Regions from separate parts of the Homo sapiens genome. Here region 2 is linked to region 1. Evidence: fine-mapped expression QTL. A gene starts in region 1. The other region holds a variant in brackets. All regions are shown on one strand. Distances are between the middles of the regions.

Region 1 (5,386 bases):
CAAGCAAGCAAACAAACTTTTTAAAAAAAGCAATTATCTTCAGAGAAGATCAAAAGTTATGCAGGATAGGAAAAGTAATCTTAATTTTCTACATGGCTCAGCTGCTGTAAATGGTATTTACAGGCACACCTCGGAGATATGTTGCAGGTTCTGTTCCTGACCACTGCAATAAAGCAAGTATTACAGTAAAGCAAATCACACGAATTTCTGGTTTCCCAGTGCATATAAAAGTCATGTTTATACTATAAGGTAGCCTATTTAGTGTGTGATACTGTTATGTCTAAAAAAACCTAACGGACATACCTTAATTTAGAAATACTTTGTTGCTAAATAATGCTAACAATCATCTGAACCTTTGCCTTCACAACATAAGGCCTAACATTTGGCTTATCTTTGCTTTCACAATGCCTTCCTCACTAAGCTTAATCATTTCTAGTTTCCAATTTTAAATGAAAGACATGTGACACTTCCTTTCACTTAAACACTTACAGGCCATTGTAGGGACATTAATTGGCCTAATTTCAGTATTATTGTGTCTCAGGAATAGGGAGACCTAACGTGAGAGAGAAATGGAGGAACGTCCAGTTGGTGGAGTGGTCAGAACACACGGTCAGAACACCAACACAGAGTTGGTGGAGCGGTCAGAACTGAATTATCAATTAAGTTCACCGTCATATGGGTGCGGTTCATGGCACCCCAAAACAATCACAATAGTAACATCAAAGATCACCATAACCAACATAATAATAATGAAAAAGCTTGAAATGTTGCAAAAGTTACCAAAATGTGACACAGAGACATGAAGTGAGCAAAGGCTATTGAAAAAATGGTGCCAATAGACTTGCTCGATGCAAAAATGCCACAAATCCTCAATTTGTAAAAGATGCAGGATCCACAAAGAGAGATGCACAATAAAATAAAGTATACCTGTGCATATTCCAATATTGTAAACACTGAATATTGATTTAAACAAAACTATAACCAATTTGGATAGAGGAGGAAGAGAGGAAGCATACTTCTGGAACATGCAGTGGGGAAGAAGAAAGCTAAATCTTCACCTTTTATGGTTGGGAGTCAGTAGATTATGCCTGAAACTGAAAAATCAAGAAGTACCAATCCAAGCATGTTATTTAGAGAACTGAGGTAAATGCCTAAAGAATGAGCACAGGTGAAAGTGCTTGCCTCTGAAGAGGAAGAAAGGGAGAGTGTGGGACTGCCGATTTTCGTAAGTTTTGAAAAACTGACTCTTTGAAAACTAGGTACATGATAACCTTGAATAAATTTCATAAATATAAATATGTTTCTATCTCTTCTATATCACTTCACTCACCAGTATTGAGTTTTCAGAGTAACTACTGTATATTAGTATCTAAAAGTTAATTTTCTGTCTTAAAGGCATTAATATGGATGCTAGACTAAATATACAGAAATTCCACTTTTCATAATAATAGCTACCATTACTATGGTCCCAGTATTGTACTAAGCACTTATATTATCTCCAGTCCCCAGAGCAACCATGCAAAGTAGGTACTGTTTCCATTTTACAGATAAGAAATTGATGCTCAAAGAGATTAAATAATTTGCTAGTATGTAGCAGAACTCTCTGATCTCAAAGCCTCTGTTCTTCCTTCCTCCTGGATCCCATCACCTCTTTCTAGAGTTTGCGTTTAAAAGAACTAGGGGCAGGGGGAGGGCAATGTAGCAGTTCAAATAACTCCTCCTTTGGAGGAAGGGCAAGGAAGCAGAAGAGAACCGCTGAAGGATTCAGCAATAGCACTAGGTAGCAGTCTCATGTAACCAAGTTTAACCCACAGTTGAAATTTCCAGTTGGTCATGTGAGCAACGGAAGCAATTTTTAAACTCTGGCCAGGAGCCCCAATGCTTACAAAAATAAAAGCTTTGTTCGGCTCTTATTTTGAAATAAAATAGATGTTCCAGCTGCTCCAACATGGGCCTAAACACTGCAGTGAGAATGCTCAGGACACAAAGTTTTGTGTCCAGAGAAGCCCAGTCATCATTACAAAATTGATCTCTAAAAGGGGTTGGGGGACAGACGGCATAGCTGCTTCCCAAGGAAATGAGTAGGAGGTGACCTGGGTCCTGACTGCCACACTGGCTGGGAGCTTGGACCAGATGATCCTGATGGGTTTCTTCTGAATAAAATTCCGGGTTGTGTTTATCTTGCAGTTTAAATCACTGGGAGCTTCGAGAGTTCTTTGGCTCCTTCCCTTTCTGGAATTATTGTGTGATATAATCAAGACATTTACCTGGCTCTTTAAATCAGTTGGTTTGCCGGCTACAGTGTAGGTAAAGAGTATGTCATAATGGACAATAAAAAGTTGTTTACATACCTCATTTCTGAAAAGTCATGGGCCACTGGCAAGTTAGGAAACGAAAGTGAAATCAGCTGATAGTGACATCAGTCAGAACAAATGTACCAAAGTTCAGAGAGCTGTTTACTAGGCACGACTGCGAAGGCAAGGGGGCACCAGCTCAGGACTGCATCTGCCTGCCATTTCCCTTCCACTCCTCCTTTCTGGAGTCTGACATTAGAAAGCCAGCGAGAAGGAAGATTCAAACAACCAACCCTGATTTCCTGCTTCTCCTTTTCATGAGTGTTCCTGTGGTCTCTGCACCTCCTTTCTGTAAGTACCGATCCTGCAAGCATCACAGCTTACCCAGACGTCTACTACCTTGTAAGACAATTTTGTTTTCTTCTCAGATATTTCATGTTCTGGCAATCCACATAGGGGAACTCACTGGTTGTTCAGTATCTGTGACCCTCCCTCGCTCATGTCTGTATAATCTACATAATCTACCCCCTTTACTCTCTGCTCTCCTTCCTTCCACTCTTCGGCATCAACATGTGTAGCTCTGGCCTCAAAGATGATGAAAGTAAGGCCAGTATAACTGGTTAGAAACGATGCAGGGCTGACTGCACACAGCAGAGTCTTGCACGCAGTGTGTACAAGGACATGGCTGTGGCTTGTGCAATACACTGTTCATCAGAAATAGGTAAACAAAAGCAGGTCACCGACCAACACTAACTAAACCACTATTCAATGGTAGTTACGAACACATCATAAAACTTTAAAATACACACTGAAGATTAATATCAACAGAAAAACTTGTGTTCTTGCCTCAAAGAATGGGACCTAAGAGATGTTTAGATCTTATGTTAGTCATTAGACCAGATTGCTCCTCATGCCCCAGTGGAAATCCATGGTGGTATTTTAGTTCTCTTGATGCATATTTTAAGAGATTTTTTTTAATGTGGGCTTAGTTTCACTAATAACTTCCACTATGCTTCTTCGCCTATAAAATCAAAGGCTCCTTTGAAAGAGGGAAAAGACACATATTTCCTTCTTCCCTCATGATAACTGAAGAGCATTTTTCAGTATCCACTTACCATACCCCATTCCCCAAAATCTCAGGTCTGAGACTCAGTCCATGAGATATTTTTTCAATCTTGCACATATTCCCCTTTCTCAACTTTCTTTCCAGCTTAGTCCCTGCTTTATCTAATTACTAAGGCTGTTTTGAATGCCTGTTTTATAAATTTCTTTTTTTTTCATAAATGTAGCACATAATTCTAAAAATATTTTACTGCAAATAGAGAACAATTGCCTGTAATGTCACCACCCAGAGCTACCACAGCTAACATTAACATTTTCAAATACTTCTTTAGTCTCTTTCTCCTATGCCTCTTTATATGGATGTAGTCACACTATGTAGAGTGATTTTATACCTGCTTTTTCTAAAAGATGCATAGTATTTTATCCTTGATACATCATAGTTTACTTCTGATATTGGACTTTCAAGCTGCTTCCCATTTTGTGCCAAAAGTAATGCTGTGCTGAACATTCCTATGTATAAATTATTGACTGGATTTCTGATTGCTGTCTTAGGATAGATTTATAAAAGTGGGCCAAAGAGATATGACTATTTTTAGGGTTTTTAATGTTTATTGCCAATCTGCCTCCCTGAAAGTTTGTACAAATGTTCACATCCACCATCATTGTGTGAGAATGCCAGTTTAACCATATTTTTGGTATCATCAAGTGTTTTTACCTACAGTGTTGATAGGGAAACTCTGGTTTTTTACTTGGCGTATCTTTAATTACATTAGAAAAGTTACAGAATTTTTTTTCATGTTAGTTAACTACTTTGCATTCTTTGTGAATTATCTCTTCATATTTGTCCATTTTTAATGAGGTGTAATGTTTTTTGACAGTTTGCGTAAACATTTTAAACATTAAGTACATTAATCATTTCATAGTTGTGGTAGATATTTTCCATGCTCATTGACTTTTAATTATATTTATGTTGTTTTTGGTGAATAGAAATCTTTATTTTAGAATAGTTAAACCTGTGCAATTCTTTATTTGTAGTTTCCATTTGCTCTTAAGTTCCAAATTTTATTTTTCACTCATAAATCAAATATATCCTTTTTTCCAGATCATTGATTTTTTTATCTGGTTTTACCTTTCACTCTTGGATCCATGTGAAATTTATTTGGGTATGTGGAGTGAGATGAGGACCTAAAATAGTTTTGTTTCTCTTTTCTAGTTAGCTGATCAATTGCTTCAGTATTAGTTAATGAAGAACCCTTTCAGGACTCAAAACAAATATCTCTTCTGAAGAGAGGCTTTCCCTGACCCTATAATCTAGTCATCACTTCCTCCTGCCAGTTTCTCTCTCTCACTCACCCTGTTTATTTCTTTCCCAAACCTTTTCAAAAATTATAATTACCTTTTAAAAAATACATTTGGTGTTTGCCTTCCCAACTAGAGTACAAGCTCAATGAGAGCAGGCACCTGGTTTGTCCTGTGTGGCACTGATTCCCCAGGGCCTCTGATTCAGGGAGTCATCCAAAATGTGTCACTAACAGAGTTACAAGATGAAATGCTGACCCCACGAGTCGAAGTGGGTGGCAAATTGCCTTTGTAATTGCGGAAGAGAGGGCTGGTGCGGGAAAACTAACCATTGACAGCCAAAGGCAGTCACCAGTTTCTGGTACTACTGATTCTCAAACTCTGAATCTTGTGAATCTTGGCCGCCCACAAACTGGACCGTGGAGTCCTGCCAACAGAAACCAAATGAGATTAGCTGGACGTGGTGGCAGGAGGCTGAGGCAGGTGAATTTCTTGAACCCGGGAGGCAGAGATTGCAGTGAGCCAAGATGGTGCCACTGCATTCCACCCTGGGTGACAGAGCAAGACTGTCTCAAACAAACAAACAAATTAAGATGGCTCATTTGTAGACATTTTCTCATTTTTAAGGATTTTCTTCTCCCTCTAAACTTTTTGTAATCTTTGTTCCCACTTGGATTATCTGCTAGTGAGAGCTAATAGTCAACAAAACAATTGCACAAATAGCAAGTTAA
Region 2 (5,386 bases), 26 kb after region 1:
ACTTGGTAAGACTAGTCTTTGGAACTTGCCCCACTCCACGTGAGTGGAAGCGTGGCCTGATCACCCACGGTGTGCCTGTATTGGCACTTTTGTTCTGGTTTTGACTTGGCTTGACTTGGTAAGACTAGTCTTTGGAACTTGCCCCACTCCATCTGAGTGGAAACGTGGCCTGATCACCCACAGCATGCCTGCATGGGCACTCTTGTTCTGGTTTTGACTTGACTTGAATTGCTGGATACTTTGGTTTTGGTTTTGACTTGGCTTGAATTTTTTGGTACTCGGATTTTGAATTTCGTGATTTTGGTTTGGTATAAACGGTAAAAGTGTGTGTGCCCTCTTTACCTGTTCTTTGTCTTGTGGTATGTGTGGTGTGAGCGTGGTATTTTGTCTGGAAAAAAAAAAAAAAAAACATGGGTCAGGTGCAAAGTAAGCCCACCCCACTGGGACCTATGTTAAAAAAATTTTTTTTCAAGAGAGAATTTAAAGGAGATTACGGTGTTAGTATGACACCAGGAAAACTTAGAACTTTGTGTGAAATAGACTGGCTAGCATTAGAGGTAGGTTGGCCACCAGAAGGAAGCCTGGACAGGTCCCTTGTTTCAAAGGTATGGCACAAGGTAACCTGTAAGCCAAAGCACCCAGACCGGTTTCTGTACATAGACAGTTACAGCTGGTTTTAGACCCCCTTTCCCCCACCACAGTAGTTAAGAGAACAGCAGCATAAGCGGCTGGCAGAGCCAAGGAACGACCAGAAAAGAGAAAAAGAGGCCATCTGTACCAATTCTAAGAGTTTAGACTAAACAAGTTCTTATTAATAGCAAAGGATAATTGAAATCTCAAACTTACAAGGTTTTCAACAAAAGTGAAGTTTGCTAAAAGTTAACAGTGTAACATGTATTTTGGTAACTTCTAATCTTGTGGCCTTAGACAGTCTAGTCCAAAGACATAAAGAAAGTTCGCTTTTTTAAAAAGGAAAGAAAAGGGGGGAGGCAGAATTTATATTAAAAAAAAGTTATATGGTAAATTCTTGTCCTGAAATAAATTAACTGGTTGTTTAAAGAAAAAAAAGTTTGTTAATCAGTCAAAAAATTGAGACATGTTAAAAAATTGTCTGGGAAAGTCGTGAGAAAAAAATTATAAAAAAAAATTTTTATGCAAAAAATATTGTATAATTTAAAAGTAATGAGGCCTCCTGAGTACTATTTAAAAAAAAAAAACCAGTTCATGTGCAAGATGTATAAGAAAAGTAAAATATACCTTTGGTAAAAAAAAAAATTATAAAGGGGCATAAACGTGGATTTTTACCTACATTAAAAGGTTAAAAAAATTATTGTTTTAAAAGTTTAAGCAAGCTTTAAAACGTTAATTATAAAAAAAATTCTGTGTGTAAACATATTAGCTAAGGTTAAAAAGGTATCATCCAGTTTTTCTGTGAACTGGACATTAAAGTAAAAATGCAAGAGGTTTTTCTTAAAGCATCAACCTGCTCTTTAACAAAAATTATAAAAGGTTAAAAAGAGTCTATAAAATCTTACCTTATGGTCAAACATAAAAAATTGGATAAATATGTCTACAAGGTTTTATTAAAATTAAGTTTAACATTAATAACACACTAATATAAAGGTAAAATTTAGCTTATCTGGTATAAAAGTCATACAGGAAGCATTAGTAAATATAAAATAGTGTTTAGCTTTCTTTTGTCTAAAAACTAATAAAAATTGGTGCTAAAGGAAGCATTCATTTTACTAGAGGATCATAAAAGTTAAAGACTTAAAACAAACTTTGGCAATTAAGACAGCATACCAAGATGCAAATGCCTGGTTGAAATGGATCAAATATTCCATCTGCAGGTTAAACAAAAGCAATTAGCATGCTTGTGCACATGGCAGGCCAGAGGCCCTGATTGTCCCCCTTCCACTAAGGTGGTCCTCCAGTCGGCCAGGCATGGGCTGCATGGTAGCTCTTTTCCAGGATTCTATAGCCTGGAGTAATAAGTCATGCCAAGCTCTCTCTGCTATATCCCAAAGTCCCTGCAGGTCAGCCCCCGAGGGCCATCCAGCTTCCATCTCCCAACACTAAGTTCACTACGTGTCTCTCATGGCAGGGAGGAGACTTAGCATTCCTTGGAGACCTGAAGGGATGCAGTGAGCTTAAGAATTTTCAAGAGCTTATCAATCAGTCAGCCCTTGTTCATCCCAAAGCGGATGTGTGGTGGTATTGTGGTAGACCTTTATTGGGGACTCTGCCGAGTAACTAGAGTGGCACTTGTGCTTTAGTCCATTTGGCTATCCCTTTCACCCTGACATTTCATCAACAAGAGGAAAAAATAATAA[T/G]AAGAAGAAGACATCATAAAGCGAGAAAAGCTCCTTATAGGTCTTTCAACTCTCACATCTATTTAGATGCAATTGAAGCCCCGCAAGGAGTCCCAGATCAATTTAAAGCTTGAAATCAAATAGTTACAGGATTTAAGTCAATATTTTGGTAGATGACAGTCAATAAAAATGTAGATTAGATAAACTACATCTATTACAACCAACAGCAACGAGCTTTTCATGAGTTAAAAAGAAAAACTCATGTCGGCCCCAGCCCTGAGGCTACCTGACCTGACAAAACTCTTTACGCTCTATGTGTCAGAAACAAAAAAAATGGCAGTTAGAGTTTTAACCCAGACTGTAGGGCCCTGGCCAAGGCCAGTGGCCTATCTCTCAAAACAACTAGATGGGGTTTCCAAAGGCTGGCCCCCATGTCCAAGGGCCCTGGTAGCAACGGCCCTGTCACAAGAAGCAGATAAGCTAACTCTTACACAAAACCTAAACATAAACTCCCCCCATGCTGTGGTGATTTTAATAAATACCAAAGGACACCATGCTAGATGAATGCTAGACTAACTAGATGCCAAAGCTAGCTCTGTGAAAATCCCCACATAACCATTGACGTTTGCACACCCTAAACCCTGCCACCTTCCTCCTGGTATCAGAGAGCCCAGTTAACCATATCTGGACTCAGTTTATTCTAGTAGGCCCAACCACCGAGACCACCCTTAAACATCAGTAGGCTGGGAGCTGTACATGGATGGGAGCAGCTTCGCCAACCCCTGCAAAGTGACTCTGAAGAAGACGACAAGCCCTGCTCCAGTCACACCTGGAAGCTGACTGGTCCACGCACGGCTGAAACATGAGGAAACTCATCACAGACTCATTTTCCTTAAAATTTGGACTTGAACGGTAAGGACTTCAACTGACCTTCCTCAGACTGAGAACTGTTTCCAGTATATACATCAAGTCACTAAGGTAGGACAAAAGATTGCTACAGTCCTATTATTTTATGGTTATTATAAGTGTACCAGGACTCTAAAAGAAACTTGTTTGTATAATGCTATTCTATCCAAGGTATGTAGCCCAGGAAATAACCAACCTGATGCGCGTTATGACCCATTTTAAGCCTCCCATGATCACAGTTTTTAAAATAAAATTAAGGACTGGTCCTTTTCTAGGTGACACAAGTAAGGTAATAGCTAGAACAGAAGAAAGAGGGGTCCCCAAAAATGTAACCTTAAAATTTGATGCTTGTGCCGCTATTAATAGTAAACAGCATGGGATAGAATGCGGTTCTCTAGATTGAGAAAAAAGTTACACAGCAGAAAATAAGTACATCTGTCAAAAATCATATTTATGTGAGATGTGTCAGTACTGGTCTTGTGTCATTTAGGCTACTTGGAAAGAAGATAAAAAAAATATCCTGTTTGGCTCCAAAAAGGAAAGGCAGCCCCTCCTGCACGAGTGGGAGCTGTGATCCTTTAGAATTGATAATCACAAACCCCTCAGACTCAAAGTGGAATAAAGGAAAATATGTAACATTAGGCATTGACAGAAGAAGACTGACCTCCTAAACTGGAAACAGCTTACACCCTCCTACACGGAGAAGCCCCAGGCCCTCATAGACTTCAGGCAGTCCATCTTTCTGACTCATAACCCTACCTGGCCTGATTGTCAGTAGCTACTTTTAATATTGTTCAATACAGAAAAGCGCAGGAGAATTACTCAGGCAGCCTTACAGTGGTTAGAAAGCAATGCGCCTGAAGGCACAAATGATGTTAAGCGGTAGGCACAGAAGAGGTTCCCAGAAGCAGATCCAAATTGGGATCCAAACCAGGCAGGAGAATTGCAAAACCTGCATAGGTATCGGGAGGCACCCCTTAATGGAATAAAGGCCAGAAGGAAAAAGGCAGCGAATTTGGGAGAGGTCTCAGAGGTATGCCAAAAGGTTGATTAGAGTCCCAGTGAATTTTATGAAACACTCTGTGAAGCATACCGGCTTTATACATCGTTTGATCTGGAGGATGTAGGGAATCAATGCATGGTTAACGTGGCATTTATGGGCCAGGCACAAGGTGACATTAGACAGAAGCTTCAGAAGTTGGAAGGTTTTGAGGCTATGTATATTACCCAGCTCATTCAAGTAGCTACTAAGGTGTTTGTTAATCCAGAGGAGGAAGCCAAGAAAGAGGCAAAGCACAAAGCCAAGGAAAAGGCTGATTTGTTGGCTGCTGCTCTGGTTGAGAGACTGGTTTTGTGAGAGGACGCGGACTTGGTCGTGGTCACAGTAGAGGACAAGCTAGGCCAGGGTTTGAAGGCCAGCCTAGGCTTGAGAGGGATCAGTGTGCAAGAATGCAAACAGAAAGGGCATTGGAAGGTTGAATGTCCAGAAAGAGAAAAGGAAGAAAGTAGCAGCCAGGGACCTGATGCCCGCCCAAGGCCTGCAGCCACTAGCCGTTGTTCTAAAGCTGGATGCCGATCTGGTCAGCTTAGCAGGAGTTGAGGAATATAAGGACTGAGACAGACTGGGCTCCATCTCTCTAGGCCTCCAGGAGCCCCTGGTCTCTATGAAAGTGGGAGGCCAAAAGATGGACTTTATTGTGCCCCTGTTAGGGAGAGACTTGCTTCAGAAACTACAAGCACAAATTTCTTTCAGGCCAGAAGGAAACATGACTCTGGATCTAAGCTGACCAAAAGCTATGATGTTAACTCTTACCCTCCACGAGACTGAGGAATGGAGGCTATATGTAAAAGAGGTGTACAGGCTGTCTGAATTTATGGACAGAATATTTGACAAACTAGTCACTGAAATACCTGAGGTGTGGGCAGAAGACAGTCCTCCAGGATTGGTCATAAACCGGGCACCAGTGGTAGTCAAGTTAGTTCCAGGTGCAACTCCAGTGCGTATTCCCCAGTACCAGGTGTCTACAGAGGCAGTGCGAGGAATGACCAAGCACATAAATCGGCTATTAGAACATGGGATCATAAAGAAATGCAAGTCACCCTGGAATACTCTACTCTTAACCAGTGCAAAAACCGTCTGGTGGGTTCAGGCCTGTGCAAGACCTATG

The links. PIP is the estimated chance that this variant, and not a neighbour inherited with it, causes the effect. A credible set is the group of variants that fine-mapping cannot tell apart.
Region 2: its variant is the best candidate, but not a certain one, in a credible set for the expression of TMEM140 in whole blood (TOPMed, PIP 0.54).

What each region holds. Positions count from the first base shown.
Region 1 is chr7:135,145,626-135,151,011 of GRCh38, forward strand. It overlaps TMEM140 (transmembrane protein 140), which reads left to right and starts at 2,447. Exons shown (of 2, transcript NM_018295.5): 1 at 2,447-2,645. It also overlaps a transcript of CYREN not described here. RefSeq lists an enhancer at 2,226-2,725.
Region 2 is chr7:135,172,079-135,177,464 of GRCh38, forward strand. It overlaps a transcript of CYREN not described here. Among named protein-coding and RNA genes, the nearest start is that of CYREN, 4.1 kb to the left of the region's middle. The variant T/G (reference allele first, on the strand shown) is at 2,334.